Linked DNA regions of Homo sapiens. The protein of the gene in region 2 interacts with the protein of the main gene of each other region in a pairwise test. Each region holds a gene or a part of one and is shown on either strand. Other genes may lie near its edges.

The links.
Region 1: the proteins of CTDNEP1 (region 2) and CNEP1R1 interact in binary tests that used the Homo sapiens proteins (3 or more experiments, as listed by UniProt).

The regions. Positions count from the first base shown.
Region 1 is NC_000016.10:50,017,578-50,033,079, forward strand, and holds the start of CNEP1R1 (nuclear envelope phosphatase-regulatory subunit 1), read left to right. Parts: upstream 1-7,647; 5' UTR 7,648-7,738; coding exon 7,739-7,763; intron 7,764-8,073; coding exon of another isoform or gene 8,074-8,124; intron 8,125-8,818; coding exon 8,819-8,890; intron 8,891-12,147; coding exon 12,148-12,221; intron 12,222-15,502. UniProt on the Homo sapiens protein: Forms with the serine/threonine protein phosphatase CTDNEP1 an active complex which dephosphorylates and may activate LPIN1 and LPIN2.
Region 2 is NC_000017.11:7,245,349-7,256,102, forward strand, and holds the start of CTDNEP1 (CTD nuclear envelope phosphatase 1), read right to left. Parts: upstream 6,387-10,754; 5' UTR 5,949-6,386; coding exon 5,847-5,948; intron 1,996-5,846; coding exon 1,929-1,995; intron 1,835-1,928; coding exon 1,716-1,834; intron 1,515-1,715; coding exon 1,443-1,514; intron 1,023-1,442; coding exon 906-1,022; intron 790-905; coding exon 678-789; intron 1-677. Other genes in the region: ELP5 (elongator complex protein 5), read left to right, coding at 7,155-7,248, 7,422-7,482, 7,570-7,650, 9,235-9,455. UniProt on the Homo sapiens protein: Serine/threonine protein phosphatase forming with CNEP1R1 an active phosphatase complex that dephosphorylates and may activate LPIN1 and LPIN2.

The DNA.
Region 1 (15,502 bases), on a different chromosome or scaffold from region 2:
AAATGCTGGCATTACAGACGTGAGCAACCTGGTTACTTATATTTTTATTGTTGAGATATAAGAGGTTTTTTCTTTCAAAAAATAAATTCTGCCTCCTGTCAGATCAGCAGGGGCATTACATTCTCATAGGAGTGCAAACCCTATTGTGAATTGCGCATGCGAGGGATCTAGGATGCACACTCCTTATGAGAATCTAACTAATGCCTGATGATCTGAGGTGGAACGGTTTCATCCGGAAACCATCCCCCCACCACCTCCCCAGTCCGTGGAAAAATTGTCTTCCATAAAACTGGTCCCAGGCGGTAATGCTGCAATGCTTGCTTGCCTGTTAGTGACCTCCTGCTATGTGGCCCGGTTCCTAACAAGCATTAGACCAGTACAGGTCCTTGGCCTGGGGTTTGGTGGCCCCCTGCTCTAAAAGACTAACATGGTCTCCATCTTGTTACATTTTGTAGACACAGAAAACTTTTTTGGTATGTTTGTTTAATTTTACAAAAAAAATAAAAGGATAAAACTAAAAAATAAATAAATAAATAAATAAATTCTGGATACAAGTCCCTTACCAGATATATGATTTGCAAATATTTCATTAAACTCTGTGTGTTGTCTTTTCACTTTCTCAGTGTTATGCTTTGATGCACAGAAGTTAATGATATATTTTAAAATTAAGATATAATTTACGTGCCATAAAATTAACCATTTTAGAGCTAAGCTATGAGGATGCAAAGGCATAAGAATGACACGATGGACTTCAGGGACTTCAGGGAAAGGGTGGAGCTGGTGAGGGATAAAAGACTACACATTGGGTACAGTGTACACCGCTCAGGTGATGGGTGCACCAAAATCTCAGAAATCACCACTAAAGAACTTATTTGCGTAACCAAACACCACCCGTTCCCCCAAAAACCTATTGAAATATTTTTTTAAGTAAAAATATTAACCCTTTCAAAGTATACAATTCAGGCCAGGCTTGGTGGCTCATACCTGTAATCCCAGAACAGTCGGAGGCCAAGGCGGCTGGATCACCTGAGGCCAGGAGTTTGAGACCAGCCTGGCCAACATGGAGAAACTTTGTCTCTATTAAAAATACAAAAATTAGCTGGATGTGGTGGTGCATGCCTGTAATCCCAGTTACTTGGGAGGCTGAGGCAGGAGAATCACCCGAACCTAGGAGGTGGAGGTTGCAGTGAGCCAAGATCACACCAGTGCGCTCCAGCCTGGGTGACAGAGTGAGATTCCATCTCAAAAAAAAAAAATAAAATAAAAAAATAAAAAAAAAAATATATATATATATATATACATATACACAATTCAGTGTTTTAATTATATTTACAAAGTCATGCAACCATCATCCCCATCTAATTCCACAACATTTTCATCACCCTCATAAAGTATCCTGTATCTATTGTTAGTCACTCCTGATTTTCTTTTTCCCTGGCAACCAGAATTCTACTTTCTGCCTCTATGGATTTACCTACTCTGAATATTTCATATGAATGGAAACATAGGGTTTATTCATTTTGTAACATTTCAGTACTTAATTCTTTTTCATTGTTGCAAAATAGAGTAATAGCCCATTGTGTATTTACCTCACATTTTGTTTATCCATTCATTATTTGATGGACATTTGAATTGTTTCCACTCTTAGGCTATTAGGAATAATGCTGCTATGCACATTCATGCATAAGGTTTTACTTAAATGTATGTTTTCAATTCTCTTGGATATATACCTAAGAGAAGAATTGCTGGTTCATATAGCAACTGTATGTTTATCTGATGTTCACCTTTTTGAGGAACTGCCAAACTATTCTCCAAAGTGGCTGCACCATTTTAAATTCCTACTAGCAATATATGAGTGCATCCTTATGAAATTGTGTGTTTTCTGTCCTTTTTTCTACTGATACGACATATTATATGAACGCATTTTCTGATGCTAAACTAACTTTGCATTCCTGGGATAAATCACATTTCATCGTGGTGTATAATACTTTTGATATGTTGCTGAATTTGATTTGCTAATTTTTTTGAGAATTTTTTGTCTATGTTCATAAGAGATACTCATTTTTTTTTCTTTTCTTTTTTGAGACAGGGTCTCACACTGTCACCCAGGCTGGAGTGCAGTGGTGCAATCTCGGCTCACTGCAACCTCCTCCTCCTGGGTTCAAGTGATTCTTGTGTGTCAGCCTCCCGAGTAGCTGGGACTACAGGCACACCCCACCACACCTGGCTAACTTTTATATTTTTTGGTAGAGACAGGATTTTGCCATTTTGGCCAGGCTGGTCTCAAACTCCTGACTCCAAGTGATCTGCCCACCTTGGCCTCTCAAACTGCAGGGATTACAGGTGTGAGCCACCATGCCCAGCTGAGATATTCATATATTTTTTAAAGGATGGTGGTGAATATCAACCTGCCATGGTATTTCTATTCCATTGAATACATTTAAAAGAATGATGCAATGGGCCAGGTGCAGTGGCTCACGCCTGTAATCCCAGCACTTTGGGAGGCCAAGGTGGGCAGATCACCTGAGTTCAGAAGTTGGAGACCAGACTGGCCAACATGGCAAAACCCCATCTCTAGTAAAAATGGAAAAATTAGCCGGGCATGGTGGCATGTGCCTGTAGTCCCACTACTCAGGGAGGCCGAGGCAGGAGAATCGCTTGAACCGGGGAGGGAGAGGTTGTAGTGAGCCGAGGTCATGCCACTGCACTCCAGCCTGGGTGACAAAGTGAGACTCCATCTCAAAAAAAAAAAGAATGACGAAATAGCTTTCTTTCCAAATGTCAATACCTACAACTTACCAGAAATTACATCTTTTACAAGTATTTAAACCCATGATGAAAATTTGTGATATCATTTTACAAACATGTGACATGGCATATAATCTTGTCAAAATTATTTTACAAGGTACAGCAAGAGAAACTGTATGAAGATCACTGTCACTGTTATAATCATTTTAGGGAGCCACCAGAGGGTTCTGAGCAGGAGAGCCATGCTATCTTTTAGTGTTTTACAAAGCACTGTTGGAGACGGAGTAGAAGCTGGAAGCCAGTTAGAGGCCACTGCAGTAATCAAGCCCAAATGGTGCTGTGGACCAGGTAGTAGTGAAGGTGGTGGGAAGTGATTCTTTGGTGTTGTTTTTGTTGTTTTTCAGACAAGGTCTTGCTGTCACCCAGGCTAGAGTGCAATGGTGTGATCATAGCTTACTGCAACTTCAACCTCCCAGGCTCAAGTAAGCCTCCTACCTCAGCCTTCCCAGTAGCTGGGACCACGTCCAAATATTATTTTTTTCAGAGACAGAGTCTCACTGTGTTGTCCAAACTGAAATATTTAATATATGTTGAGGGTAGAGCTAATAGGGTTTGCTATCTGATCTGATGTACCACGTGGAAAGAGAGAACGAGAGAGAAGGAATATATCTCCAGCTACAGGGTTCAGGGTTGATCAACTCATCTACTCATCTATAAACTCATCTCTGAAATGAATTTGATAGCACCCCTTGGCTCATAGAGCTGTTGTTGTGACGTTTAAAGAAGATTCAATGCTCCTGAACTAATAAAAGGCAGAGTGGCAACCCCCTAGTAAAAGATAACCAACTTTAACTATTTTATAGGTGATCTCTCTTAGCAGCTGATCTTCATCTTATCATTGCTGTTTTAAGGGTCATTAGTGTTTTGTCTTCTTTTGTTTTTACACTAAACTCTACCTTCATAGACAGTAGGAGTGAGTCTTACAGATCTTTGCATCTTCAGCTCATACTCTAGTGCCTGGAACACGTCTTCCTTAAATATGTGTTACTATCTCCTCCTTGCCAAGTCCCATGGATATGAAGTTCCGAAATCTGTTCCTTTTCATCTCCCCAACTACCTCATGGTCCAAATTCCTTAACCTGACTATGAGACCCTATTTTCCTGTCTCCCTCCCCTATGTCCCCCAATCCCTCTATCCATAAATGTAGACACCAATGACAGGCAAATAACATGCACCCTTTCAAAAGCATGTTCAATATTTATTTTAACACAGTTGAGAGTGAAGGATAGCGAGGCAACACCCCAGGAGGTAGCCCTTACTGTTCCCTCTGTTGTCCCAAGCTCTTGCTAGAAACTTGCACACCCCCCTCAGGCAAACAAAAGCCCTGCAGTTAACAGAACTGTCCCTTTTGAAGGCAAGTCAGCAAAGCCTCCACTCACCACAATGCTTTGCAATGCCCTATTCATCAGTCTGTCTTCACTCCTCACCTCCCCAGGATCTAGCCCAGGAGAGCCTGTCATATAACAGATGTTCAATAGCCATTCTCTAAGCACTGCTGTGTGCCGAAGGGAAATGTGATGAATTAGACTTGGAGATGGAGAAATGGAACATTGAGCAAGAAGTCAAAATGGGTAGTTTGACTTAGGGCTTAAAATCAGGCTATGACAATAATTGTGAGATCCGGGCAAACTGATTTTTACTTTCTCTGTTGTGAAATGGGCCGTGATGACTTTCGAACTTTCAAACTTTTTTTTAAAGTGGAACTCTCGGGTATATGCTTTGTACTGTGATGAGAACACGGTGAGCATGCACACACATCCACACACAACGGAAACAATAGGCCATGAAACCCCACATCCTTACTTCCAATTAGGTTTCTTTTTAGTTTTTTTTTTTTTTTTTTTTTTTTTTTTAGACAGGGTCTCACTCTGTCACCCAAGCTGAAGTGCAGTGGTGTGATCTCGGCTCATTGCAACCTCTGCCTCCTGGACTCAAATGATTCACCCAGCACAGCCTCCCAAATAGCTGGGACCATAGGCACACACCACCATGCCCAGCTAATTTTTTGTATATTTTGTAGAGAGAGGGTCTCACCGTGTTGCCCAGGCTGGTCTCAAACTCCTGACCTGAAGCAATCCATCCGTCCCAGCCTCCCAAAATGTTGGGATCACAGGCGTGAGCCACAGTGCCTGGCCTTAATTCATTAAAAAAAAAATAGTCATCATGTGCCCCATAAATATATACAGCTACCATGAACCCACAAAAAAATTAAAAATAATAATAATAGTCATGAATCAGTACATAGATTTTACAAACCTCTCTAGATTTTGACCCACGGTTTAAAAAATATCACCTGAAAGGGTTAAGGGTGATAACACATGGAAAGGGTTTGGTCCCAAGGAAGGCTCCCTAAGTGGAAAACTGAAAAGTGCTATAGTAGAGGAACCTTCAAAATGAAGTGGTGGGTGGGGGTGTCAATTAATTCTGCTGACAAATGGGAAGGAGGAAGGTTGAGGATGAATTAAATACACAAAATACCAATAGGGGAAAAACTGCAGTGCTGCTTAGAACCTTCTTAGCCCTCATCTTTGCATGGCTGGATTCTTCTCATCCATCTTTTCATTCTCAGCTCAAATGCCTGTGCCTCATGAAGCCCTCCCAAAGCATGAGATCCTGCTAACCTTCCTTTTTCTCACTGTATCCTATTACTGTTACTCCCTCCATAGAACTGTCAACTAAAGGATCATGAGGTTCATAAATCTGGGGAGGAGAGCTTTATTTCTGCTTGTTTGTTTGTTTGTTTGTTTGTTTGTTTGTTGAGACAGGGTCTTGCTCTGTTGCCCCAGCTGGAGTGCAGTGGTGCAATCATAACTCACTGCAGCGCCGAACTCCTGGGTTCAAGCAATCTTCCTGCCTCAGCCTCCTGAGTATCTGGGACCACAGCCACATGCCACCATGCCCAGCTAATTTTTAAATGTTTTTTGTTTGTTTGTTTGTTTTTTGTAGAGACAGAATCTCACTATGTTGCCCAGGTTGGTCTGGAACTCCTGGACTCAAGTGATCCTCCCACTTCAGCCTCCCAAAGTGTTGGAATTACAGGCATCAGCCACTGTGCCTGGCCTAAAGAGGTTTATTTCTGAAGGGTTGGAGCCTGCAGGCTGGCCATCCTTATAGGCTGGGAAGTATGGTCTCTGGCAGAGACCAAAAGCAGGCACTTTGAAGGAGGAAGGGTGAAGCAGGAATTTATGCCAAATGGGTTGGCCAAGTATACATATTTAACAGGTTATAGGAGAAGCTATTCAGGAAAGAGGGGTGCACACATGCATAATAAACAATCATGCATGTTACATGGGTCACATGTTCACTTTGGGGTAGAGACTTAACATTTAAATGCATTACAGTTAGACCCTTTACGTCAAAAGGCGAAGCAGAGAACATAAAGGCACTCATTGTGCAGCCTCTGTAGACTGGCTAGGGCCAATCTATGGTGGGTGGTCTCTTATCAGGAGAAAGTTACTGAAATCAGTCTCTTGTCTAATGAAAGCAGGAGTTATGGCTTGTGGAACAAAGGGATCAGTTAGTCAGTGACTGGTACTTGGTAAGCTGCAATTGTTTTAATATTGCTTGTTTAGCTGCTAGAGGAAAAAAACGAACATTGTGGCAGTTAGAACATCGTTTATTCTTTAAGTGTCTGGGTCTTGAGTGATTTAACCCTTGCCTGGCAGGGCCTTAGGTCTTGTTTATAAGTTGGTATGTTACTGCCACAAAAAAATCTAGCCCATCAGTCTTAGATTCTTTTTTTTTTCTTTTTCTTTTTTGACAGTCTCACGCTGTCACCCAGGCTGGAGTGCAGTGGCTCACTGCAACCTCCGTCTCCTGGGTTCAAGTGACTCTCGTGCCTCAGCCTCCCAAAGAGCTGGGATTACAGGCATGCACCACCACGTCTGGATAATTTTTTTGTATTTTCAGTAGAAACAGGGTTTTGTCATGTTGCCCAGGCTGGTCTCAACTCCTGACCTCAAGTGATCCACGCGCCTCAGCCTCCCAGAGTGTTGGGATTAACAGGCGTGAGCCACCGCGCCCGGCCAGGATCTCTATTTTAACACAACTATTCTTATTTGAAATCAATTACTTATTTGCATGTTTGTTGCCTGCTGTAGCCCTTCCTCTTTGCGGGCAGGAATCCTGTCTACCTGGCTCACACGCGTATCAATACAGTGTCTAGCATGTTAGGCAATAAAATGATTTTGAATGAAAGAATGCCACCAATAAATGAACAAGAAGGCCTTGTGATCAAATACAAATGTAGTCAATCCCTTACAGATCTCTTCTTAAGTTATAGGTATTTGGGCTTACACTTTGCCTCATTTAGGAATTATGAAAGCTGGGTGATGTGAGAGGAAAGTAACCAAGAGAGAAGTGTTTACTTAAGGGGTTGGTTATCTAGGATACCATAATTAAGGAAACTGGTTATTTAGGGTTCTAGTTAGTTCTGTACAGATTTCATTACTCCTTGAGATCCTTGAGGACAGAACCAGCTCTTTGATTTCTGTATCCCTCGCTAGCGACCAGAATAATGCCTGGAAGGTAGTGGGCGCTCAATCAACATTTGACGAATGAAAGAACCAAGCGGGGAACGGGGGATAAATGAATGAACGAACTGGCTCCGGAGGGCTGCAGTTCCTCCCCGGGGCAGCAGGCGACGCCAGCGTTACGCCCGCCTGGCCGCCGGCAGTTCTTGGTCCCTCCGGCTGACCGTCCAACGCTAGGCGCCGAGGCCGGTGCAAGAGACAGCCAATAGAAAGCTGTCTTAGTTGGAGGTCTAGTAGAGGAATCCAATGAGCGTAGCGGGTCTAGGCAAGGGGCGGTGCGACGGGGAGGGGCAGCGGGGAGCGGTTAGAGGTGGGAGTTGGCGCTGCGGGCCGGGCGGGGGCCGCGGAAGCTGCGATGCGGACAGGGCAGCGGCGGTGACCCGAGCTGCCGCCCGACATGAACTCGCTGGAGCAGGCGGAAGGTAGGGTGGGCCGCCCGGGCCCGTCCCCCGTCTCCCCTCGGAAGCTGGCGGTGCTCCGGAGGAGCCGGCGTCGTGAAGACCCCCGCCCCGGGAGGAGGCCGCAGAGGATGGAGCTAGGGGCCCGGAGCTTGGGGGCGCGTAGGCGGCCGTACCTGGCCAGACGCGGGGGGCGGTGCCTCAGCTCCCTGAGTCCCCACAAACCTAGAGGGTCGACCTCCTCGCCAGCTTCTATTTTTATTTTCTTTTCACTGGCAGACACTTGCACTTCGTGCATTGCAGCCTGCTAATTCATTTCATTTCATTCTCACAGCCCCGCGAGTTGTATCCCTGATTCCTGCGGTGGTTTCCGGTAACTGCCAAGGTTAGGAAGTGCTGCTCGGTGTTTTAAAGTTTAAAGCACACCACTGCGGAAAGGATACCCCACCACTCACTCGGAGCAGCTTAGACGCCCCTGTCTTCTAGAACTAGGCGCTGCCTGGGTGCCACGAAGATCACCTGTACCCCTTCGGAGGGGGCAAGGGGAATGTCTTTCCACACCCACTCGCTATCAGTGTCAAGAAGTCTAGTAAGGCCAGACGGCGTAGCCATTAATTAAATATAAGAGCTGGAAACCGGAGGCGGGTAATTGCAGTCAGGTAGACCTCGAAGACTTTGATGTTAGGCACTACGTGGTTCTAATAGGAAGTTCTTGGTTCCCAGAGAGCTAAAACTCGACCTGATTTTAATTTTATTTGCAACCCTGAAAATGTTCGCTTTTGGCGCTGGCCGAGGCTGCTGCTTATTTCTCCCAATACCATTTATGAAGCTTCTAAAAGTAAATCAGCAAGTTTTCTTATATGAGAAATTGGAATTAAAGAGCCCTAATTTTTTGTCAAGTGCTTAAAAAGCTGTCATAGTAAATGAAATAAACAGTGCAGTGATACATGGAAGTTAGTGTGTAAGACCTGAAGCAGTTAAGAGTATCTCACATGTCGTCTTAATGTTAGGTAAATACTCTGACATTTCGTCAGACGAGTAAGAGTGGCTAATTAGAAAATTGACATCTTTATACCTAGATCTCAAGGCTTTTGAGAGGAGACTTACTGAATATATTCATTGTTTGCAACCTGCTACTGGACGCTGGAGAAGTAAGTTCCTGAATGTTATTTTAAGGGAAAACTAACAATTGATACTTTTATCCTAATATAGGAATGATTTGCTTTTATGTAAAATGTTTGTTTAAATTTATTTAACATTGTAGACAATGCCTTATGAAGAAATTTTTAAGAAAAGGAAATTATAACTGGCCTTCTCAAAAGAACAGTCTATTTCGTGTGGTTGTTTTTGTTTTTCCATTAAAAAACATATTTTTTGGCCAGGCGCCGTAGCTCACGCCTGTAATCCCAGCACTTTAGGAAGCCCAGGCAGGCGGATCACCTAAGGTCAGAAGTTCAAGACTAGCGTGGCCAACACGGTGAAACGCCGTCTCTACTAAAAATACGAAATTAGCCGGTCGTGGTGACGCTGCCTGTGATCCCAGCTACTCAGGAGGCTGAGGTGGGAGAATCGCTTGAACCCGGGAGGCGGGGATTGCAGTGAGCCGAGATTGCGCCATTGCACTCCAGCCTGGGCGACAAGAGTAAAACCCGGTCTCAATAAATAAATAATAAAAATATTTAAATTTTTGAATTATTACAGTTTTGATAAAGACATACCTAATAAAAATTTCAGTAGCCCGTTTAGCAGTTTTATAATTTGCCTACAAACTATTGGAATAAAATTTTAGTAAGAAGAGTCATATTAATAGGGCTCAGTGAGTCACGCATATAATCCCAGCACTTTGGGAGGCCGAGGCTGGAGTATTGCTTGAGCATGGGAGTTTGAGACCAGCCTGGGTAACATGGAGAGACCCCATCGCGGTGGCTCACGTCTGTAATCCCAACACTTTGGTAGGCCGAGGCGGACGGATCACGAGGTCAGGAGAGCGAGACCATCCTGGCTAATACGGTGAAACCCCGTCTCTACTAAAAATAAAAAAATTAGCCGGGCGTGGTGGCGGGCGCCTGTAGTCCCAGCTACTCTGGAGGCTGAGGCAGGAGAATGGAGTGAACCCAGGAGGCAGAGCTTGCAGTGAGCCGAGATTGCACCACTGCACTCCAACCTGGGCGACAGAGCGAGACTCTGTCTCAAAAAAAAAAAAAAAAAAATTTAGCCAGGCATGGTGGCACACCCCGAGGTCCCAGCAACTTGGGAGGATCACTTGAGCCCAGGAGGTCGAGGCTGTAGTGAGCTATGTAGTGAGCTAAGTGAGCTATGTTCACTGCACTCCAGCTTAGGGAACAGAGGGAGACCCTGTGTTTAAAAAAAAAAAAAAGTAAAGTCATGTTATTTAATGTATACTTGGAAAAGTTACAAAATTACCCTTAGTTGATTTTTAACAAAGCATAATTGTGCTGCTTTGAAGTCTGACCTAGAAAATTCACATTATTACTATCTATTCATAAGTATCATGAGTGCTACAAAATATAATTTGAACAGTGCTTACTTGCCCATGGAAATACATAGGAAATGTGGACAAATATATGAGCCATGAGATCATCAAACAAAATGCTTTGTTAATATGTGTTTGGAATAGTTTTTATTTGTTTTTGTTTTGGAAATGGAGTCTAGCTCTGTTGCCCAGGCTGGAGTGCAGTGGCGCCATCTTCGCTCACTGCAACCTCTGCCTCCCGGGTTCAAGTGATTCTCCTGCCTCATCCTCCCTAGTAGCTGAGATTACAGGTGCCCGCCACCACGGCAGCTAATTTTTTTGTGTATTTTTAGTAGAGATAGGGTTTCTGCATTTTGGCCAGGCTGGTGTCAAACTCCTCACCTCAGGTGATCCTCCCATCCTGGCTTCCCAAAGTGCTAGGATTACAGGTGTGAGCCACCACGCTGGGCCAAATAGTTTTAATTTCCTAGATGGTCATTATTTAGATTTAATTCCTATCAAGAAGGAAGTGTAGTAGCACACATTGAGGATTTACTTTATTTCAAAGTGTAAATCAGTTTGCTGGACCAAAAAAGCACTATTGAAGCTAAGGATCTAAGGATCTGGCAAGATTTTTTTGTATAATTTTTATTAAATCTATTTGCAAAGTTTTATTAGTATGCTGTGAGAATTCTGGTTGGTCAGAATTTACAGGTAATGATTTTCCTAGGTTCTCTGGTTTACCTAGGAATTATCCCCAAAACCTATGTTTCACTGTTACTTGAAAATCTTTTAAAATGTATATGATACTGCCCTATCTTATAAAATGTGATATAAATATACTTTACTTTTTCTCTGACTCATGGTCTTAGCACTTACTTGGTTAATGAACCAGTCAAATAAAGCATGTGTATGAGGTCCTTTCTAGTGTATTGATTTTGCTTTTTCTTATTTTTTTAAAACATACATGTGTAATATAGTGCATTTCTGGAAATACAGAATTGTAAGAAATTGAGTTCAGTCTGTTCTGAGTTCAGAACATAGTTTTGATATTTTGATCCTATTTAATACCTAAAACAAGATTTTTTTTCTTTAGTTTACGTCTTCTAAAAGTACATCAAGGAATTCTAGATAATTAAGGTTTTACTATATTTGTATATTTGCTATATTTCTGTTGTTCTTGGAAACTGAATTTCCACATTTGAAAAATGTATGCATCCTAGCTGAAAGACAGGCAACGGTCATCATCTCCAGAATATTAACTGGGTCTTGATGCCCCTTTATTATTTTTTACTAATACCATTCTTAAGTTTTACTTATGATTTATTTAGAATTTCTAAAATCATTCTAGCTTAGTGGAGAGAAAGACCTTTTCTAAGTTTTACTGGCAGTAATTTCTACCCTACCTTTCTTTAAGTCTCTTAAAGAAAATCCGATACTAACTGGTGTGCTCCATACTTCCTGCACTGACTTTAATGTAACCATGGCAGTCATCTGCAAAGCAAAATCCTTTAGTCAGTCTTCTCAGTACATTCAAAAAGGAGTCTTTGATGGTTTGTTTACAGTAGAAAATGAGTTTGTTTTTTTAATTTGAGTTTACAAGATCTGCAAAATCTTCACTAAGCACAGTGAACGTTACATAGCGTAGACTCTTCTACTGAAGTGTCACCATCGAATTGCTTTTTATTTCATTGATCATCATAAGTTCTGACCAAATCATAAGAGAAACAGTATCCTTAATTACTAAGGTTCACAATGTTTAAGAGAATTCCTCGAAGCCAGATGGCAAGCCTTCTAATTCCTGAGTCTAGTTAGTGCATTTTCCATTTAATAAAGTGCTATATTCTTTGGTTGTCATTTAGTAGGAACTGGTGGTGATAGTATCACATATTAAGTATGTATTTGCTTACTAATTTCGTGTTTATCTTTCATCAGTGCTTCTTATAGTGGTATCTGTCTGTACAGCTACTGGTGCCTGGAACTGGTTAATAGACCCTGAGACACAAAAGGTAGAAGTTTTGTTTTAAAATCATTAGCATAATTAAATGAGATAATGGATATTGTAGTGCTTTGTTAATGATAAAGTATTCAAACACTACCTATTAACTACTACTAGTGATATTGTCATATTAAAAATATGCCTTTTATTAATTTGCTCAAGGAAGATTTTGGCTGGCTATTGTGAATTAAGTATGTCTACAGGGAAAAGGTCTAAGAGATGCTATTATTTCTTAGACATTTATTTGTTATTTGTCATTCACTTCTGAATTTATCATTTTTACATTTTTTTTATATCTCTCATTTTTACTTCAGTGTGAGTATTATCTTCATTCTGCTTTGTTCATTGAGTGTCATCAGTGCCAGCTTTTAAAAGTTCTAAAATAGGCCAGGCATGGTGGCTCATACCTGGAATCCCAACACTTTGGGAGGCCAAGGGAGGAGTTCAAGACCAGCCTGGGCAATGTCATATAGCAAGACCCCATCTCTACAAAAAATTTAAAAATCAGCCAAGTGTAGCATGCTGTACCCAGCTACTTGGGAGGCTGAGGTGGGAGGATCACTTGAGCTCAGGAGATCGAGGCTGCAGTGAGCTATGATTGTGCCACTACACTCCAGCCTGTGTGACAGAGCTAGACCCTGTCTCAGAAAAAAAGAGGGAGAGAAAAAAATTGTAAAATAACATTTTCTTCTATGAGTTATCTCTGTTAATACCTTTCTTCATCCCATAAAACACTGGAGATGACTTTACAGGAAACACACATGATAAAATAGCAAAATACACATATAATAAAAAGTCAGGACTAGATAAAAACAAGTTGGACCATGAGGTCAAAACCAGAAAGGAAACCAGCTCACTGATGTATAGGCCATGTTTCCCAACACACTTGCCAGAATTGGATTATAAATTAGTCTCTGAGTTACCTAATCAGTGAAGTCACAGTTAATTCTGTGATTTTCATTGCCTGTAAGATAACACATATATCAATTCCTTGGGCTAGCAAAGCTTTTCTTTCCCAACATTTATCTCTGAAAAAAAATTTCTTGCCTGAAGTTTAATACAGGAAACACTGAGGGATCTCCCACTGGGCACTGTGCAAGAATATCCCTATACCAAATGCAATAACTGATTTCATAATGTTATTCCTTGAAGCATCCTTTGATGAAAGCTGATAGCATGTTTCTCAAATTTCCACCTCTTTCTACTAATTTGTGCTTTAATTTCAAACTCAGGGCTTTTTTTTATTAGAGAAGTAGTTAGTCTCCAATTTTTTAGTGAAGTTTCTTTCCCCCAGTGCAGTTTTATTTAGGGAGTAATGATGTAATTTTCACAAATCTTAAAAATCCCCTCCCCGCTTTAAGCTGCAATTAAGTAGACTACTTTCAGTAGCTCTATTTGTACCTTTTAGGTTTTACAGAAGAAAAGCCTAAGAGAAGGCTTTTGTCATCAGTCTCCATGGCAATTCAGACAGCCAGAGAAGTTTATTTCGCATATAGTCTCCCTAACTTTATCTGCTGAGGTGGAGATATTTAAAAGGATAGGAAGCAAGGGGAGATTGGTGATGGAATTTTATGTTAATAGAGGATTTTTATGGCAGACAGGAAACTCTCTTGTGTGTTCATTTATAAAAATCTGATCTTAAGGCTGCACTTGGTAGTCATCTTTAGGGGAAGAGTGGAAAGAGGCTGGCAAGAAGATTGAAAAAGATCCATCTTGGGAAATGAGTCTGACTTCTAATTGGGAAAAATATAAGCTGATCTCAGCTAGTTGAGATCTTAATAAAACACAGAATTAAATGTAATTTGAAATAGGCCCAAAACTATGTAGTTAATATAATTTTCTAAATTAGGTGAGAATATAACTATTCGCCTAAGGGTTGGCTCTTTATATTTCAGTATTTAATAACCCCAAACCTGACAGGAGTTTTAACCAGCAATTGTATCTGTAGCAAGAGTTGCAAACTCAGGAGCAGTGGCTAGGTAGAAGAACCTAGGGAGAGAAAGAATATGGCAGACAGGAAGTACCTGACTGCCTGGCCTGGAGAGAACTGCTGTTTCAATGCATTGGAGTGTTGCCATGGAGGGAGGAAGGCTGAAACTGATGGCCTAATTAAAATGAAGACATAAAGCACTGTATATGCTAACCTGGTGCAGGCCACACACAACAGAGCTGGCTTATGAGAAACTCCTCGGAGGTTTGAAGAAGACGTTCTTCTGGAATATTAACTTTTCCTTGGGTCATCATCTTTCTGGGAGCTTCTTTCCTGGTATTTTCAGCCTCTCATTTCTTCATCTGACAAACTTCTGTAACCAGTACCATGCTGAGCCATCTACCTGGTGCTTCTGTCTTGAAACACGTGCCTGCGCGTCTCCTGCTGTGAGAGTGGAGTGGGGATGTGCTTAACTTGATTCTCTTGCTCCCATCTAGTTACTAATCCACTTGATTTCTTTCTACACAGGCTCTAAATGCTTGTCTTCTCTGTGTCTCCAGTCAACGTTTCCATTTCGGTGCCTATTCTTATTCCAGTCATGGATCCTGGACCCTTGTCCCTCTACATATTCTTAGACTTGTGGATTGTCCTGTTTTCTGCTATCATTTGATATGTCCAGATCTGAAATCAGCCCTTTCTTTCTCCTTCGTTCTAGTTCTTTATGGATAGCTACTAATCGTTTTTCCCTACTTGAATGTCCTGTGGTCATTTAGATCTCAGTAGCTTCAAAACCAAATTTGTTTTTTGCCTCTGCAGGGAGGAAGGGGTGATGCTGGAATTGAGTGTTATGAGGATATGTAAGAGTTAGCCAGGTGGAGGGAGAGAGGTGAACAAGGCAGCATATGTGTGGAAATATGGCAGGAGATGAAAATTAGACTGGGATCAGGTTATGAATGGCAGAGTTTGCTCAACTCTTTTAAGGAAGCTTTTTAACAGTAAAGGTAGGCTGAGCGTGGTGGTTCACGCCTGTAATCCCAGCACTTTGGGAGGCCGAGGCGGGCAGATCACCTGAGGTCAAGAGTTCAAGACCAGCCTGGCCAACATAGTGAAACCCCGTCTCTACTAAAAGTACAAAAATTAGCCGGGTGTGGTGGTGGGCGCCTGTAATCCCAGCTACTTGGGAGGGTGAGGCAGGAGAATTGCTTGAATCCTGGAGGTGGAGGTTGCAGTGACCTGAGAATGTGTCATTGCACTCCAGCCTGGGTGACAAGAGTGAAACTCTGTCTCAAAAAAAAAAAAAACAGGGAAGGTAACTAAATCAAGTTTGATTTGTGTTTTCATTGAGACCAGAGGCCTCATCT
Region 2 (10,754 bases):
CAACTACTGAGAGGCTGAGGCAGAAGGATCACTTGAGCCTGGGAGATCGAGGCTGCAGTGAGCTATGATCATGACACTGCACTCCAGCCTGGGAACAGAGTGAGACCCTATCTCAAAAAATAAATAAAAATAAATTTTATTTTTATTTATTTATTATTTATTTTTTTTGAGACGGCGTCTCGCTCTGTCACCCAGGCTGGAGTGCAATGGTGCAATCTCGGCTCACTGCAACCTCCGCCTCCCGGGTTCAAGCGATTCTCCTGCCTCAGCCTCCCGAGTTGCTGGGATTACAGGCGTGCGCCACCACGCCTGGCTAGTTTTTTCTATTTTTAGTAGAGATGGGGTTTCACCATGTTTGTTAGGCTGGTCTCGAACTTCTGACCTCGTGATCCGCCTGCCTCGGCCTCCCAAAGTGCTGGGATTACAAGCATAATCCACCGTGCCCAGCCAAAAATAAATTTTAAAAATGAAAAAAATGATATAAGAAATCCGACTTATGAAATGGACATATATGGTATCTCATTTGAAACACAAAAATAACTTGCATTTCGACTTACAGCAAACTAGGGATAATCTAGGGAATCCCAGCTCTCAAGGACCAAAGCCCAGGTCTCCTGCAAAAATACCTTCTCAGAACCATGTTCTGGTCCTGCCAGACTCACCACCTTCCCCCGTACCTGGATGGCTCCTGTAAGCCCCTGGGGAGTTATCCAGGATCACAATGCTGGAGAGGTCACTGTGGACCACAGAGAGGTCCTTGATGTAGCTGCCCAACTCCAAAGTGCAGTGCTGGAAGGCAGGGGATCATGTAGCAGGCCTCTCTCCAGGATACTCTCCTCAAACCCAGATCCCTCCCTGGTGGCCTCCCTCCCAAGCCACACTCTTAGACTGGGATTCTAGCTTACCTGTCTGTAATATCTCCTCTTAAGAATGCTTCTGCTATTGTCCAGTTTATCTGCCACAGCAGAGCCATAGATCTCCATGCTTGCTGTAAACACCACCAGCTCGTACCACTGGCTCACCTGAAATAGATTGGGGGAGAGGGCGATGCCATACAAGGTGATGATTCCTTTAGACATACAGTTATCTTTCAGAAAGGCAATGGCATAGTCCTTCAGGCCTTCCATCAACATCAAATGTCTCTGAGGACACGAAATTCTGAACCCCCAGCCCAAACCTCCAAACTCAGTGTTAGGCATCCTACACTCTTATGATTCAGAAATGCAAGAACAAAAGAGAAAGATGCCAGCGGAAAAGAATTACATCAGCACAACAAATGAACCCCAAGTACTGAAAGCCACTCCCCTACCATTACACAGCCTCCCCTCTAGAAAACTGCTCTAACCCGTTTCTCCTCACCCCTTCCTCCAAATCCTCCCAATTCCCAGAGCCCTAAAACCATTCCTTCATTACAGAGCTCCCTTTAGCTCTCCAAAACTCACCACTTCCAGGAAGAAATCCACATGGGGCCTCTTATGTACAAAAAACCGGACAGGATGTTTGTCTATTACCACCTACAGAGGAACAAGATGGGCTGGGGGATGTCATGACCACCACAACCCAGGCCTAGAAAACGCCCCACCCATCTGCTTCCCTCCTCCAGGCTGACACTGGTGCCAGCGGATGGAGACAGATGCTCTGGGACTGGGAAAGGGAGTCCAGGTTTGGGCAGAGGAACAGATGGAACCATTTCATCACTCCCCACCACCACACACCTTGAGGATGAAGTCAGGAGGCGTACCAGGCCGGACTGTGGGCCTCAGGACCCCATCATGGTGGGAGTGAATAAGTGTCTCATCCAGATCCAGCACCAGGATCTTCCTCTTCACCTGGGCTGAACCAGAGTGGGGAGGAATAATATTGACCGACCTCTGACCCAGAGCTAGCCCCTACTTCACCCTAAAGGAGGCTTCCCACCACATACTTACCTAGCCGATTCCGGGACACAGGAGATAAGGGGAGGATATCATATCGAACAGTTTGGTACTGAATTACCTACAAATAGCACAAAAGAGGATTGAAACCCTTGATAAGGAAGCCTTCCCCAGTAACAGTAACAGGGAGCACATAATGAACATTTACCACAGGTACTATGTATGTAATTTAGGCTTATTTCTTCTTCTTTTTTTTTTTTTTTTGAGATGGAGTCTCGCTCTGTTGCCCAGGCTGGAGTGCAGCGGCATGATCTCGGCTCACTGCAACCTCCGCCTCCCAGGTTCAAGCAATTCTCCTGCCTCAGCCTCCCTAATAGCTGGGACTACAGGCGTGCACCACCACGCTCGGCTCATTTTTGTATTTCTAGTAGAGGCGGGGTTTAACTATATTGGCCTGGCTGGTCTCAAACTCCTGACCTTGTGATCCTCCTGCCTTTGCCTCCCAAAGTGCTGGGATTACAGGAATGAGCCACTACGCTGGCCTTTTTCATTTAATCCTCAAAACAACCATAATATTACTGTTATACCTGTTTTAAGGTTAAAGAAACTGAGGCCACACAGCTAGGAATTATCTTAAGTTGTTTCTCTCCCTAATTAAAATGAAAACTCCATGAGAATATGATTTTGTCTAGATCATGGCTGTATTCCCAGTGCCTAGAACACAGTAGCAAAAGTGGTCAGTTGATATTAGTAGAATCAGCCAGGCGCAGTGGCTCATGCCTGTAATCCCAGCACTTTGGGAGGCCAAGGCAGGCGGATCACAAGGTCAAGAGACGGAGACCATCCTGGCCAACATGGTGAAACCCCGTCTCTACTAAAAATATAAAAATTAGCTGGGCGTGGTGGTGCGTGCCCATAGCCCCAGCTACTCGGGAGGCTGAGGCAGCAGAGTGGCTTGAACCCAGGAGGCAGAGGTTGCAGTGAGCCGAGATCGCACCACTGTACTCCAGCCTGGTGACAGAGCAAGACTCCGTCGCAAAAAAAAAAAAAAAAAAAAAAAAAAAAGTAGAATCAATGAAGTGATAGAGCCAGGATTGTACCAATGCAGTTCAACCCAAGAACGTGCCCTCTTTTTTTTTCTTTTTTTTTTTTTTGAGAAGGGAGTCTCACTCCATTGCCCAGGCTGGAGTGCAGTGGCGCGATCTCAGCTCACTGCAACCTCCACCTCCCAGGTTCAAGCAATTCTCCTGCCTCAGCCTCCTAAGCAGCTGGGACTATAGGCGCGCGAACCACGCCCAGCTAATTTTTGTATTTTTAGTAGAGACGGGGTTTCACCATATTGGCCAGGCTGGTCTTGAGCTCCTGACCTCATGATCCACCTGCCTCAGCTTCCCAAAGTGCTGGGATTACAGGCAAGAGCCACCACCCCCGGCCGAAGCTGCCCTCTTAACTGTGATATTATCCTGCTACACTGAACAAAGAAACGACCCCCACAACGCAACCTTCACCCCAAGAATTATTTGTAGCAACTACCATCATTGGGAACTAAGTGCCTCAGATTCCCTAGTGCACATGGAGTAGGAGTCGGGAGGAGATCCCTGGGTCCTTAATGGGAATATAGAATGAGGGAATCCAGAGGTTGTCAGGTCAGCTAAGTTCCTCTGGCTAGAAGCCACCAGGCCTATTTTAACCAGCCACCTGTCCACTTCTGTCCCTTCTAGCCAAGTCACAAGTTCAGAGAACCTCAGCCCTCTGAACAGTCTCCTTATCCTGGTACCCAGGGTGAGGCAAAGAACACTGGAAAGCCCCTGCCAGGCTGACTGGCAGGGTCTGGAGGAGGCCAGAGTGAAGTCAGGGCCGTTAAGTGAGAGGTGAATAAGGGACAAGGACGTCACCACCTCATCCAGCTCTGCTTCTCCAAGCATTCTCTAGGGGCTATTTCCTAATACGCACATCTCCCCATACAAAGCCTGGCAATTCCCTCTTCCACACTTTTCTTCAAAGGTACAAACCCTCTTCAGTGCATACCTAGGCCCCAAGCCACACCAGAACCAGGTTCTCCCTTCTAAACCCACAGGGCTCTCTCCCCCTAATCAAGATCTGCCCTTCTTTTCTCCCTGGGCCATGATGAGGTCCGAAAGAGCTCCAGTGTCCAGCCTTGCTATCTCGGGTTGCATATGCTGGGCATGTAGGGAATGCTCCAAGCATCTGCCAGAAGCGGGGTGGGGAAAGAAACCAGATTGGAAGGGAAGGGAGGACAAAAGGCTATGGGGTCAGTGCTGCCCAAAGGAGAGCAATTTTGGAAGTAACCTGTGGATGAGCTGAAGCACCACTCCGTATGCCCAGAAAACTGATGTGTTGGAGCGAGAACGTCAGAGAAGATGGCAGTCAACCCATAAAGAAAACCGCTGGAGGCCGGGTGCAGTGGCTCAATCCCAGTACTTTTGTGAGGCCAAGGCGGGCAGATCACTTGAGGTCAGGAGTTTGAGACCATCCTGGCCAACATGGTGAAAACCCGTTTCTACTAAAATTACAAAAATTAGCCAGGTGTGGTGGCAGGTGCCTGTAATCCCAGCTATTCGAGAGGCTGAAGCAGGAGAATCGCTTGAACCCAGGAAGTGGAGGTTGCAGTGAGCGGAGATGGCACCACTGCACTCCAGCCTGGGCGACAAAGCGAGACTGTCTCAGAAAAGAAAAGAAAACCCCAGGAGATAGCCCCACACATATCCCAGCATCTCTGACCCTAAATTTTTCTTGGCTCCTAGCTCTTGTCTCGGGGGAATAGCGCTGCTGCCTACAGCCACAACCATCCTGTACTGTTCGCGCCCTAAATCAGGAAGTGGAAGCAGACTGGTAAAGGACAGAATGAACCCAAGGCCAGACCCATTCTCCCAAATCAGTTAAATCAACCACCACTACCACTGAGGGCTTTCTGGAAATTCTCTGGACCCCAGGTCACCCCAACCTGGGTTTATTCTTTCAAATTGTATTGAGGTATGCTAAGGGGTACAGACCACAGTACAGACCCAGAACCTGTGTCTCCGCTTACTAAATTCTCCCCAGACTCCTTCCGAGGATTCTCCCTGGTGGTGGTGAGACCACAAGAGCACATTCATTTAAAGTGCTGTTAGCTGAAGGACCTCTGACCTTGGAGAAAAGCTAAGGGAGAGGGGACCCAGAGATGCTTGGGTCCATCCGGACAGTTTCCCTCAGAATGCTAGGCTCTCCTGGAGAAGCAAACGTCCTCATTTTCAAGCCCTACAACTGCCCAGCGCTGTCCTCTGACAGGGACACCCAAACTTCAATGGTGGGCACAGCACCCACCTTGAACTCCCTCCCACAATTAAAGAGGCCCATCGTAAAAGCATCTGCTTTAGTCTTCAATAAATCCAGATACCTACACTCACACTATGAAATAAATTTTCACAGCCTTTTTGGAGGAATTCTCTTAATGGGAACCGCAGGCGTTTCTCCTTCACACCCAGGGCTTTCCCAAGTTCCCGTCCTTGTTTGTAACGTATGCCCTCCCACCCACCTCCACCCTTGACACACAAGTCTGTCTCTTCCTTGTTATAGGACCAAACACACACCGAGGTTCCAAATAGGGTCTTTCCCAAGCCCACATCCACAGATCCGGCTGTCATCAAACAGGTGTTCCCCGCCTCTTGGTTTCTTTAGCAACAACTCCAGCTTTCTTAAAGAGCGCCCCACCCACCACCTTAGCCCCCAAGAGTTGCCAAATCCTGTCCCATCTAGCCCCATCAAAACCCCCAAGGGCAAGGTTCTATTACAAGGGTCTCCCACCTCGCCCCGCTTAGGGTGCCCAATTCTCTGGCGAGAAAAGCCCCAGCCAGGATTCCCTTCCTAGGCCCAAACAGAGGCCCGACACTCCGAAAACCCCTGAGCACCACGGACAGATGTCCCCAACACCGCCAGACGTCCCCAACACCGCCAGCGCCCACCCTGGCTCACCGTGCGGATCTGCCTCCGCAGAAGGTAAATGAAGAAGCTCCAGAGCTTGGCGGCGAAGGCCACGAACGTGCGCAGCCCCAGCAGACACTGCGTCCGCATCATCCCGATGACCCCGGCACCGCCGGCCCCGGGGCCCCCGCGGCCCAGCTCCGCCAGCCCCCCGGGGGCAGCCCCCCGCCGCCGGGAGGGGGAACGGGGGCCCCGAGTGGCAGGAGAGGCTGCAGAGAGGGGCACGGAGCGGGCGGCTCAGAAAGCCACCCCTGGCGAGGGTAAAGCCCAGCGGAACGGGGAGCTGGGGGACAGGCGTGGGCAGCCCGCGGGGGCCCACATGGGCTGGGAGTGGCACCGACGGCTTCGGGGAGGTTGCGGGCCGAGACAGGTAGGGCTAGGATGGGGTCCTCCGAGACCTGGAGGGAAGGGGAAGGATAATTGGGGGAGGGGGCAGTGGGGGAGGGGGCTAGGGAAAAGGGAGGAAGGGAAAAGGGAAGGGGAGGGGGGGAAAGCAGAGAGTGGCCCGCTGCGCAGGCGCGCTAGGGGGCTGCTCGCAGGAACGGGGAGGGCGGGGGCAGCGGCGCGCAAAGGGCCGCGGCAGCGGAGAACGGGCCTGCAGAGCGAAGGAGCAGGGAAGGAGGGGGAGGGGGAGCCGGAGGGCGCAGAGCGCTGGGCCGGAGCGGCCTCCCCCTCCCCGAGCTCGGGGGTCCTTTAGCCGCTGGGGACCGGGGCTGCAGCCTCTGCAGCTGGGTTTCCCACTCTGACAGGCGCCATTTTACCGTCCAAAGGACTCCCTCTTCCTGTCTTTCCCCCTCCTCTTCCCCTTTGACACTACTTCCGGTGGTGACGTGTATTCGCTTCACCGGGACTAAGTTCCTCCTGCGCGGTCTATGGCGGGTAGGTATAAGGAAAGCCAAAAGCACTCCAAGCGAGGCTGCAGTATTGCGCACGCGCAGAAGGTGGCCGCGGGGCGGGGCCTGAGGCGAAGCAGGCCCCGCCTCAAACTGCGTGGGCGGGGAGAGTGACGTCACTTGGCCCGCGCTTAGGGCCCTCGCGGGGGGCTTGTGGGTCCTCCTCCCCCTCCCACTGACAACTGCCCCAACTGCTCTTCCCGCCCCGGTCACAGTGAAAATGTAGACGGGGTCGTTGTCCGTACGACTGTGCGCCAGGGCTCGGGGAGGGGCGCCCTCCGCGTGAGCGCCCCCCTGGGAATATTGAACATAATCACCTCTCATTCCAGACTATGTTAGGTCTTAATGGTGGGAGGACGCCCGAGTGCTCGGCCCGTTTCACCCCGAGGAGGAAGGACACTGGGTCATGACGCCATCAGAGGGCGCCAGAGCAGGGACCGGACGCGAGTTGGAGATGTTGGACTCGCTGTTGGCCTTGGGCGGCCTGGTGCTGCTTCGGGGTGAGAGCCAGAGGCACGGTGGCGGGGCGGGGGGTGCGGTTCGGGCCTGGCTGAGGGGACGGAAGTGGGCAGGAAGGGCCAGGGGTCACAGGCTAGGTGTGGAAATCGCGACGGGTTCGCGAAGGCGGTAATCCCAGCGCTCTCATACCCTTTATCCGTCCCTCGCTCTGCAGATTCCGTGGAGTGGGAGGGGCGCAGTCTCTTGAAGGCGCTTGTCAAGAAATCTGCACTGTGGTGAGTATCCCACAGTGTCTCCCCGGCCTACCCTGGATAGGGCACCTGTGCCCACTCTTTGACAATCCCTTCTCATCTCTGCCTTAGTGGGGAGCAAGTGCATATCCTGGGCTGTGAAGTGAGCGAGGAAGAGTTTCGTGAAGGTTTTGACTCTGATATCAACAATCGGTAAGTACCAGTTGGAAGAGATTTGATTAAATTTGAGACCTATAATGCTAAGGAAATTTCTTTACAACAAGCGCAGAACCTGGTATGTAGTAGCAGTTCCTTAAATATTCATTGAAGAATTGGATATGGATCTTTCAGGAGGCAAGAATTAATAAGAGGAGTGATGAGTATTTGGGGAGTCCAAAGCAAAGATCATAGAAGTCGAGAGAGAAATAGCCTGGAAATAGGGAGAACATGTGGGAAGGGTATTGCAGTAATCCGTTAATCCGGCTTCACTCTTTAAGGTACATATGTACCGAGCACCAACTATCAACCAGGTGCTGTGCAAGATACTGGAGACGGCAGTGAGTGAGACCTGTTCCTGACCTAATGAATTTTAGGGAATAATGGTAGGAAGTGATAGAGGCCTGGTTTAAGGCAGTGGCAGTAGAGATGGAAAGTTTAGAACACATGTAAAGGACTTTAGTGGGTAGAATTTCCAGGATTTATTGACTAATATGGGGGAGAAGAAAGTATTGAGATAAGGAAGTTCCTAAACCCAGCGGCATGCCTGATCAGGAGACATTAAGAACCATTAGTAGGATGCTTTCTACTTCCTAGTCCCGGCAACTCAGTGGATGATAATAGTAGTTTACATCTTATCTGTTGAGCCTCCAATTTTGCATCAGCCATTGTTGTGATAGAGGCGGTGGTGTATGTTCAGATGGCATTCCATGGCTGGGCGCGGTGGCTCACGCCTGTAATCCCAGCACTTTGGGAGGCTGAGGCGGGTGGATCACCTGAGGTCTGGAGTTCGAGACCAGCCTGACCAACATGGAGAAACCCCATCTCTACTAAAAATACAAAAAATTACCTGGGCATGGTGGCACATGCCTGTAATTCCAGCTACTCAGGAGGCTGAGGCAGGAGAATCGCTTGAACCCAGGAGGCAGAGGTTGCAGTGAGCGGAGATCACGCCATTGCACTCCAGCCTGGGCAACGAGCGAAACTCTGTCTCAAAAAAAAAAAAAAAAGCGGGCACTCCACAAGAGAAGATAGAAAAGAGATATCTGGGAAAAAAAGTTCTGCTACCTATGCCAGTCTCCCTTTCCTGAGCTGTTTTTTCTGTAGTTGTTACTTCTTGACTTAATTCTTGACTTTCTTTAAGCTGTTCTACAGGCAGGACCAAATCTCACGTCCTCTGCTTTCTCTTTTTTCACCCAGGGTGATAATCTTTAGGTGCCACACACAGGAAATATTTGATAATGGTGATAACTAACATTTATCAGGCATATACTATGTGTCAAGCACTGTGCTGAATGCTTAGAGGTTGGCATCTCATTTCACCAATGAGGCAACTCTTAGAAATAATGTATCAGTTAGCTGACCTTGGGCAAGTAGCAAAGCCAAGCTTGGAGATCAGGCTGTCAGACACCAAAGTCTGTGCTCTCAATCACTGTATGCTCTCTCTCAGTAATTATCTTTCACTAATATTTAGGATATTCATAAAAATTGAGAAAACAGCCATAAAGATCAGAGGATGAACTTTGTGATCCTCTCGGGGGAAGGGGCAATATTATATTGTGTCTTATTTTCCCTTTGCAGGCTGGTTTACCATGACTTCTTCAGAGACCCTCTCAACTGGTCAAAAACTGAGGAGGCCTTTCCTGGGGGGCCGCTGGGAGCCTTGAGAGCCATGTGCAAGAGGACAGATCCTGTTCCTGTCACCATTGCTCTCGATTCACTCAGCTGGCTGCTACTTCGCCTTCCCTGCACCACACTCTGCCAGGTCCTGCATGCTGTGAGCCATCAGGACTCTTGTCCTGGTGAGACCCCTCCTTCATTGTTTCCCCTCATACATCTCCCTCTGCCAAGGAGTGTGCCCCTTTTCCTTTCTACCCTAGAATAAACATCTGGGTTCTCCAGTCAGACCTTTTTTCATTTTTTTGACTTTTTTGTCTGTTTTTTTTTTTTTTTACTTCTCCTTAATGCCATCTACCATTTGCTTTTTTTTCTCCAAGTTATTTTTTTACTCATTTGTTTCACTCATTCATTCATTTAACAAATCAATAGTAAATATATACAATGTGTCAGGTACAATTCTAGATAATGGCAAAATACAGACTGACTGTAGCTGGGTCCTTGCCTTCCAGGAGCTCGAAGTCCCATAAAAGATGGAGATAAGTAAACAGGCAGTTACAAGATGGTCTGATAAAGGCCATGATGATACAGGCATGCACAGGGCACCTTAAAGAAGGGCACTCTTGGCCGGGCGCGGTGGCTCACTCCTGTAATCCTAGCACTTTGGGAGGCCGAGGTGGGTAGATCACAAGGTCAGGAGATCGAGACCATCCTGGCTAACATGGTGAAACCCCGTCTCTACTAAAAATACAAAAAAAAATTAGCCGGGCTTGGTGGCGGGCACCTCTAGTCCCAGCTACCCGGGAGGCTGAGGCAGGAGAATGGCGTGAACCCGGGAGGTGGAGCTTGCAGTGAGCTGAGATGGGCCACTGCACTCCAGCCTGGGCGACAGAGCAAGACTCCATCTCAAAAAAAAAAAAAGGCACTCTCTTGAAGAGCAAGAGGTCATCCAGGCAAATTTGGCCGGGCAGGGGCACTGAGACTAGCCTTGAAGTGCACTGTGGGTACTCGAATGGACTTAGGAGTCAGACGCCCAGCTTTGTATTAAGGTGCTTGATCTCTCATTGCTTCACTTTCCCCTGTATATGGGGGAAGGTACAAGGGAAGTATTAGGATGAACCACTATATTGCCATTTCTTAGGTTAAAAGTTGTTAAATATTGTCTGGGCGCAGTGGCTCATGCCTGTAATCCCAGCACTTGGGGAGGCCAAGGCGGGCGGATCACCTGGAGTTGGAGACCAGCCTGGCCAACATGGTGAAACCCTGTCTCTACTAAAAATACAAAAAATTAGCTGGGTGTGGTGGTGCACGCCTGTAATCCCAGCTACTCGGGAGGCTGAGGCAGGAGAATCACTTGAACCCAGGAGGCAGAGGTTGCAGTGAGCTGAGATCACGCCACCGTACTGCAGCCTGGGTGACAGAGAAAGACGTCATCTCAAAAAAATAAAAACAGTCCGGGCGCAGAGGCTCATGCCTGTAATCCC